Regions from separate parts of the Homo sapiens genome. Here region 1 is linked to region 2. The links come from fine-mapping of genetic effects on gene expression. A gene starts in region 2. The other region holds a variant in brackets. All regions are shown on one strand. Distances are from middle to middle.

Region 1 (4,275 bases), 30 kb before region 2:
GCATGGTGGCACCCGCCTATAGTCCCAGCTACTCGGGAGGCTAAGGCAGGAGAATCATTTGAACCTGGGAGGCGAAGGTTGCAGTGAGCTGAGATTCCACCACTGCACTCAAACCTGGGCAACAGAGCAAGACTCCGTCAAAAAAAAAAAAAAAAGGTTAAAAGTAGAAACTACTCAAAGTTATCTTATTTTAAAAAATAATTACTTAACTTCTACATCTCTTCTTAATTATAAATCTATCTTAATATTCCAGAATAGACCACTATCTTTATTTCCTGCTCTGCCAACATGGTTTCAAAAACAAATCAAGTTGCTTTTCGGCTATCATTACCTACAACAGTTTTGCCAGCGCCACTTGGCTGCGGTAATCGTGAAGATCCTGATGATGCAGTTCCAGGAGAATTTGACTTTTTAAGTGCGGGTGGCTTATACTAAAATAATGGAAAAAAAATATTAATCAACATCACTTTTTGATTATGGATTGTAAAGTAGTGGTTCAAAACTTAACATTCTTTGGGTTTAGGATTTCAGCCTTACAAGATGAAAAGAGTTGTGGAAATGAATGGTGATGATGGTTGCACATCATTAATGTATTAAAACACTTGTAAGTATACACTGAATTGTATTCTTAAAAACGATTAAGATGGTAAAGTTTATGCTACATGTATTATACCACAGTAAAAAAATAATTGGAAAGAAACAGCTCACATTCCCTTAAATGAACAGTCTTTTCTACTGAATTATACAAATTGAGGAAGTATAGATTAAAATATATCACCTCAAAGGTTTTCCAAACTAGACTCCCTCTCAGATGCTCCACTGCTAAAACAAACTAACAGCAACTTTTTCAGTTCACAGGAAAAAGAAAAAAAGGTCTAACGGAAAAAACTTCCTCAAAGTTAAGATTTTAAACACCAAACAAACATTAGTAGAAAAACTTAGAAACAGCTATGGTGCAGCTTTAAAGGTCAAGATTTTTATATGTTCCTGGATGTGTTTTTATATTCCATATATATAATTCAGCCATATTTCCTACTGATAAAAACCGTAAGATGACCTAGGACCTGAACAAGTTTTACAACAGCTGCATTATGGATTTCCCTGATATGAAGAGAAAGAGCTAATTCTGGCTTCACGATCCTCACCAGACCATCTTAAATTAATGGAGTATGCATTGACCTAAGATCTTTCAGCTTATCTTGGATTTTTATATTTCTCTACTCCTCTAAAGAGACATCTTTATTAATTTTATTTTACTTTCTCTTTTTGAGCCAAATTTTGCTCAGTTACCTGACAATAAAAGTATCTTACTGATCACCTGCTTCAATAGCAAGAAATGAACTTGCCCAGGGTTATGCCCCAACTTCACAGCAGAGCAGGAATTTAGACTCATGCTGGTTCTAGCCCAATGCTTCAACCATAAGGTGAAAATCATACTTGCATATGTGCTTGGAATGTAGCCCAATACGGTATCAAGATTTCATGTGAAAAATTGGTTTTAACGGGCTGGGCACGGTGGCTCATGCCTGTAATCCCAGCACTTTGGAAGGCCGAGGCAGGTGGATCACAAGGTCAGGAGATCGAGACCATCCTGGCTAACACAGTGAAACCCCGTCTCTACTAAAAATACAAAAAATTAGCCGGGCGTGGTAGCGGGCGCCTGTAGTCCCAGCTACTCAGGAGGCTGAGGCAGGAGAATGGCGTGAACCCAGGAGGCGGAGCTTGCAGTGAGCCGAGATCACGCCACTGCACTCTAGCCTGGCAACAGAGCAAGACTCCGTCTCAAAAAAAAAAGAAAGAAAAATTGGTTTTAAATTATCATTTTCAAAAATCAAATCATATTTTATAACCAATAATCAATATAAAATTTAAGATGCACTACTACCAAAAATAGCTAGCTAAAACCAATTTTGAAGTCAAACATTATATCCTTCTAACTCTGTATGTGAATTTTTAAAAAGTTAAATCTTGATAAACGGTCACACAAAAAAAGTAGCATTCACGTTTTGCAGTATTATGCCAGCACCTGAAAAATAGAAAACCAAAACCTTCAGTAAATGTCTTTCAAATTAACAAATGTCTATGAGACTTTGGGAGATGAACCATATAATGATACTGATTTTTTAAAACCTTAGAGGTGCTTCTGGTTTAAAAGGGCATCTGGGCCACTATATATATA[T/G]AGAGAGAGAAAGACAGACATTAGAAAAGACTTAAAATTATAGCAATAGGGAAAACAAGCTCTAACAAAAATTTGTTAAACTACGAGAGTTATGTCTATAAAAACAGAGTTAATAAAATCAGATTAGGAAACAAGACTGCTGACCCACTCAAACTGTACAATCAAAAAAGAGCAAAATGATTAGCATAAACAAAGTGCGCTGATGTGGCCTATTACATATTGAGAGGTCAAGTCTTTAGGCAGGAAACAGGCAGAAAGGTTCCTGGTAGCATTACATAATGGAGACTAAAGATTTTTATGTATATAATAGGAATTATTAACAACTTAATGGCTTCCAAATACTTAGGCAGAACATGTCTCCAAAAAATGTTTTGCTTTCTCCCTCTCTATATAAGACTTCCCACTATTTTACTAAATTTTATTGTTGAGTTTTCTGAGCTATTCAGAACCTAGAACAACCTTACTTATATCCTATAATATTTCCCATTACTTTAGACAAGAACTAGTCAGGTTAGTTTCCTTTCCGAAAACTGCTTGTTTAAAACATTATTCACCTCCCCCTCGGTATCTTGCTGTTTTCCCTGACCTAGATAATCTGACTCCTTCCTTTCTGAGCTATATTCTATCTATTCTACAACATCAAGCTGAAAGTCTACTGGTATATAAAGACTTTCAGAATGACTCTATCAATCAACGGTTTTGTGTGCTATTATGAAGACTTTCAGAATGACTCTATCAACCAACAATTTTGTATAAATCCATTTTAATGACCAGGAGAATGAAATGATTTTATACAATTACATTCAACGTATTTCTTTCATTCATTATTATTTGGTAATTATTATTTTGTGTTTTTATGCTGCTCACAAATCTCATACATTTCCTTACAAAAATATTTATACAAAGACTAATGACTAATGAAATTGGAAAAAGTCTAAAGAACTTGTAGGACATCCATTTCTGACAAAATGGTAGAACTTACTATTTAGACCAACCTTTCAATTAACAACTAAAAATGCTCAGGAAAGAATAAAAAATCATTGTAAAAGCACTGAATGTCAAATGAGAGGAAAAGAAATTTCCAGGCCAAACCATATGGAATTGTAATAACGACCTGAACATCACATGGATTTGCTGTATAAATTTGCATTATTAGGCTGGTCAAGCAAACTAAGCCAATAATTTAATTTCAAATGTTTCCAGACTGATAAGACTCATAGATACCTAAAAGGAATAAGCACAGCACACATCTTCTCTGGAAGAAGGCATGAATGATAATCATGAATACCGTTTTACTTGTAACAAGCAGCAAAGGTCAATAATAATCAGGGAAATAAGGATATAAGGAAACTGAATGAGAAAAAAAAAAAAACAAGGAACATATCCATACAAGTCACTTGATATTGCTATAATTATCAGACACACATTACAAACAACTATGAGTACTACATTTAAAGAAATAGCAGACAACTATGAAAATATTAATGGAAAATTGCAAACTATAAAAAATAGGAAATTAGAAAAATAGCCAGCCAACTGCAAGAAATTAAAAACACAAAACAGAGATATAGACCAATGGAACAGAACTGAGCACTCAGAAATAATGTCACACATCTACAACTATCTGATCTTTGACAAACCTGACAAAAACAAGAAATGTGGAAAGGATTCCCTATTTAATAAATGGTGCTGGGAAAACTGGCTAGCCATATGTAGAAAGCTGAAACTGGATCCCTTCCTTATACCTTACACAAAAATTAATTCAAGATGGATTAAAGACTTAAGTGTTAGACCTAAAACTATAAAAACCCTAGAAGAAAACCTAGGCAATACCATTCAGGACACAGGCATGGGCAAGGACTTCATGTCTAAAACACCAAAAGCAATGGCAACAAAAGCCAAAATTGACAAATGGGATCTAATTCAACTAAAGAGCTTCTGCACAGCAGAAGAAACTACCATCAGAGCGAACAGGCAACCTACAGAATGGGAGAAAATTTTTGCAATCTACTCATCTGACAAAGGGCTAATATCCAGAATCTACAATGAACTCCAACAAATTTACAAGAAAAAAACAAACAACCCCATCAAAAAGT
Region 2 (4,275 bases):
TAGTTAATGATAGCATCTTATTTTGTAAAAAAAAAAAATCTAAAAGTAAAGGGCAAGCACTATTAACATCATAAGCTGGGCCCTATAACATCATAAGCTGGACCCATAAAATATGCCTATAAATACAGAATCCTACCTTTGTCCACCTATGCAACTGAGTGTCATAATAGGTTTCCATTATATTTTAAAAACATTCGTAGTAAGGTTTCAATAGTAATATCTTAGCACTGTTAAAATGTAAGGTCCACTAAAATGTAGGTTCGATGAGAGTAAAGCTTTATCATTTTTATTCTTTGCTGCAACCTAGAACCTAAAAAGATGCCCATAATAGACATTTATTTAACAACAAATATTTATTGAGTACCTACTTTGTGTCAGACATTGTTTTAGGTGCCTAGGATACATAAGTGAAAAATCAGATGATGATCTTTGTCTTAATAACAAATGTTGAATAAAATAATAAAAATCTGCAAACTGTTCAAAACACTTTATAGATAATATGTAATAAAACCTTATCATATTATATATGATAATCTCATGAGAATTCCATAACCCATGCTTTAATCCCACCAAGATACAAAAGTATCTTGAAAGTAAAATATACTGTACTATCATTACAATTCCTTATTTCATGGAAACTTGAATTATCTTCCAAAAACACATAAGCAAAAAACAAGACCTTCATTAGGCCATAGCATACTGCAGCTGTCCACAAACGGAAAATTATCAGAATCATTTATCAGAGCAAAAGCACGAAATAAACTTCTACTCATGTTATTACATCTGCTTTTTGGTGAATAGGTGACTGAAAAAGTTACCGGCTACCACTTTGCACTTCATCACACAATGTAGAATATTTTACTCCCTGGCATGCAACAATACACAAGACTCAAAAGCTTCTGCTCATTCTTAATTCCAACTGAATCCGTGTAAACTAGGAGACGGGGGAAAGGAGCTAAATCAAGACAATAGGATCTTTCAATTCTGAAGGTTTGTTCTTCATCATAACAAATTAAAAAATCTTGAAACTGTTGTTGCCAATGCTAGTTATTGTGGTTTTTGTCCTTCCTTTGTTTTTAGGTGAATGCTTTCATTACACAGGATAAAATGGGTAAACAGAATAGAGAAAAAGTGAAAGAACTGGGAACAAAGCAAAATCTGGAGTCATGGTTACAGTACAAAGATAAACCCAAAGATAAGGAACCAATACAGGCTCTTCCTCACACAGCGGCCGTGAATAAGTCATCAAATCCTCCGGGTAATCTATTGTACCGGCTCTAAAGCTGGCCAGTGACACTTCCTTAGGAGATGCTCTGACATCCCTCCGACAGAAGATGCTGTCGAAATGTAAAAAGCCGGTTACCTAGGGAAATCGGCCAAGGAATGTCAGGAGCTCGAGGCTGGAGACACACCCCGGGGCTGCAGCACAAAGTGGCCTGTTGGTGTTAAGGCCGTGGACAATAATGGAGAGAGTCCAGTACAAGGAAAACAAAATCTGGCCAGAGACTGGGATCACTAAAAGGGCACTCAGGAGTCAAGCAAGATCAGAAAATGGTAGGAAGAGACGTGCAGGCGTCTTGCCAGGGGCAGGATCTGGCTCCGGGCGGGAAAGCCCAGTTGAAGACCGTCTGAGGCGGGGCAGCCTGGTAGCGTTAGCTCCACCGCATCGGGGACTGTCCGGTTCCCTTCGGCCCCAGCCTCCGGAGGCGCGGCGGGACGCGGCGAGGTCCGCCGCACCGAACCAGCCCTCGCCTTCCTGCTACTGGTGTCCAGGGTCCCCAGCTGTTTCGGGCCCGCTCTAGCCGTCCTGCCCTCATCCCTTCATCGCCTCACCTTCCAGTCCCTCCATCGCGCCACCTCCTCGAGCTCAGCGAGACTCCTTCAGCAGCGCCCGCCACCGCCCAGCTCTGGCTGTAGCAACCCAGCCGCACCTCCCACCCGCTAACATTCCGAGCTCCCATTGGTTCCGCAACTGCGGGGGCGGGGATCCGTGGGGGCGGGGCCGCGGCGGAGGCGAGGTTCCTGCGGTCTCCTCCTGGCTGCCACCCCTGTCCGTCTCTCCGGGTTACTCTCCAGGGAGCCGGGAGCCGCTTCAGGTTGCAATCTGCGATGCAACGGCGCCTTTGTTTGACTCCAGCCTTGTTTTGCCTCATACCTTATCCTCCTATTTAGAGTACCTCAGCACCTCATGGGCTCCGCTTCACCAGTTCCTCAATCAGTCAATGCCTCTGACTTCTAGCCGCCATCCCTCCCAGTGGATACTTTAAGCAGGCAAGCAAACCAAACAAACGCCCAGCACGCTTGCATGCAGCAATCTCCGTTTTCCGGTCTTTGGTCGCATGACTTGACCTCAGCGTATCCCCTACACTTGATCTTCACACACAGCTTCATAGGTTAAGACACTTTTTTTCCAGAGAAATCATACTTTCTATCTGCGATTGTGGAACTGCGATTGCTCTAAGCCCTTGAAAACAGTTTCCTCACCATGAAAGCTTGGGCCAAAAATTAGAAGTGAAACCCAGCCCTCCCTCTGTCTTCTACTCTTGGCCTACCTTGGCCCTATACTTTATCATCCATAAACCAAAACAGTCGCCTGGCCTGACAATGTTTGATCGGGGAAGTTTGAGTTGGGGAATTAACCTACAACCTGACAGAATGAGGCCCGCCCGTCTCTAACAGAGTTCAAAACCTCCTGAAGATGAAAGTAACTTCAAAACTAACTCAGACCATTTTAACGGTTTTGCTTACAATTACCAGAACTACATTTCTTTGAAAATTTGATTTAGCAATCGTAAACAAGCTGTACTGTTTGCTGACTATAGCGTATCTACTGGCAAGTTACCAGTATTAATGTGTTGTCCATAACAAACCTCGGATTAATGTTATTGTTAATCTGTTTAATTGAAGAGTTTAACTTCATATCTAACTTCATCTACTATGAAATCAGTTACCTTCAGGAAGCAGGATTCCTCCTACTCTCCACTCACATGAAGGTATGTTTAAACAAGCAAACACTTGAGGGGGCATCATCTCTTACTGAGAAGGTGCTCCAAGTGCATTTGAATGTGGTAGAGTCCATCTGTTGTGTGGAGCCATGTAAAGACCACTTCAACCATGCCTCAATGACTCCCTCCGCCCTTCCCTGGTTCCCCTGGCTCTTCTGCTTCTCTGAGATCCTGGGCCTCCTTGGCCAACCCATAGCCTTGCAGGCAATAAGCTACTCTAGACTGGGTGCTGCGGAAAGGTCCTTTTTCTTCCTTAGTGCTACTAAGGCAAAGGTAGAATTTTTGGTTGGGAGGGAAGGCCTTTTAAAAGAGCATTAAGGAGAAAAAAAAGCACACAGAAGAAAATACAAAAATAAGGAAGCCATTATTTTACAAATTACAAGTTCTTTCACTGAAGGCAAGACGAATATTGAGTTGGCTGATACCTTATTCGACATAAAATCTACAGTAACATTAAAAATAATAAAAATAGCATTAAAGAATAAATCATGTGAGGCATGTTTTAGGCCATTTTCATATATTCACAAATCTTCAAAAGAAATCTACAAAGTAGATACTACAATCTTCATTTATCAGAATTAAAATGTTCATTTTCTAGATGTCTCAGAGCAATTAATATTTTGTCAATATTTGTATTATTAGTGGATGGTAGAGCTTGGCTACACTCTTGTCTGTTAAATTCTAAAGCCTATGGTGATTTGATTGGGCTCCTCACTCCCTTTCCTTGCCTTGCCTTTTATTATAGCTGCCTCAAGTGTAAACCCAAGCGTTCAGACATGTTGTTTAACATATATTTGAGTAGGCATTTCTATTGTGAATCTTAATTCTCTAAAACATGATTGCTAGTCTTCCCTACAGGTATCTTCATAACTTTTATGCTTTTGGTCTCTTCATAACTTTTACGCTACAGCTACCCTGGCTCCTGCAGCTTTTCCCTGATTCTGACCCCTGAGTAAAGAGGACTTCTTCCTATCTGCCTTCAATAAGTTCTTTCCTCTGCCGCCTACATACCTAGCCTGAGAGTCTTGTCTTGGCACTGTATCATGACATTACTTCCTCTCCAGTCTAATCCATTTTTCGGCATGCATTCATTCAACAAATGTTTGTTGAGTACCTTCTATGCTTCAAGTCCATTTTATCACTAGCCAGTTACTCAAATGAATGAAACTCAGCTTCTTCTCATGTTTTTAAGCACTTACCTGTACATAATTTTTCTACCTGCCATGTGATCTTGTTAACTGAAAATAACATTTATAGATCAATAAGAATT

Which allele goes with the higher level. Alleles are on the strand shown, and positions count from the first base shown. SD is a standard deviation of normalised expression in the study named.
As copies of G replace T in region 1, the expression in Th2 cells of the gene that starts at base 1,909 in region 2 goes up (large effect, 1.1 SD a copy in Schmiedel 2018).

The links. PIP is the estimated chance that this variant, and not a neighbour inherited with it, causes the effect.
Region 1: its variant is fine-mapped to the expression of ZC2HC1A in Th2 cells (Schmiedel 2018, PIP 0.93).

Annotation. Positions count from the first base shown.
Region 1 is chr8:78,693,563-78,697,837 of GRCh38, reverse strand. ZC2HC1A (zinc finger C2HC-type containing 1A) reads right to left here. Exons shown (of 9, transcript NM_016010.3): 6 at 332-431. It also overlaps a transcript of IL7 not described here. Among named protein-coding and RNA genes, the nearest start is that of ZC2HC1A, 30 kb to the right of the region's middle. The variant T/G (reference allele first, on the strand shown) is at 2,180.
Region 2 is chr8:78,663,723-78,667,997 of GRCh38, reverse strand. ZC2HC1A (zinc finger C2HC-type containing 1A) reads right to left here and starts at 1,909. Exons shown (of 9, transcript NM_016010.3): 1 at 1,834-1,909. The coding sequence starts at 1,849. It overlaps LOC105375911 (a long non-coding RNA gene), which reads left to right and starts at 2,019. Exons shown (of 4, transcript XR_007060972.1): 1 at 2,019-2,993. RefSeq lists enhancers at 1,756-1,805, 1,770-2,277, 2,278-2,786 and a silencer at 1,876-2,095.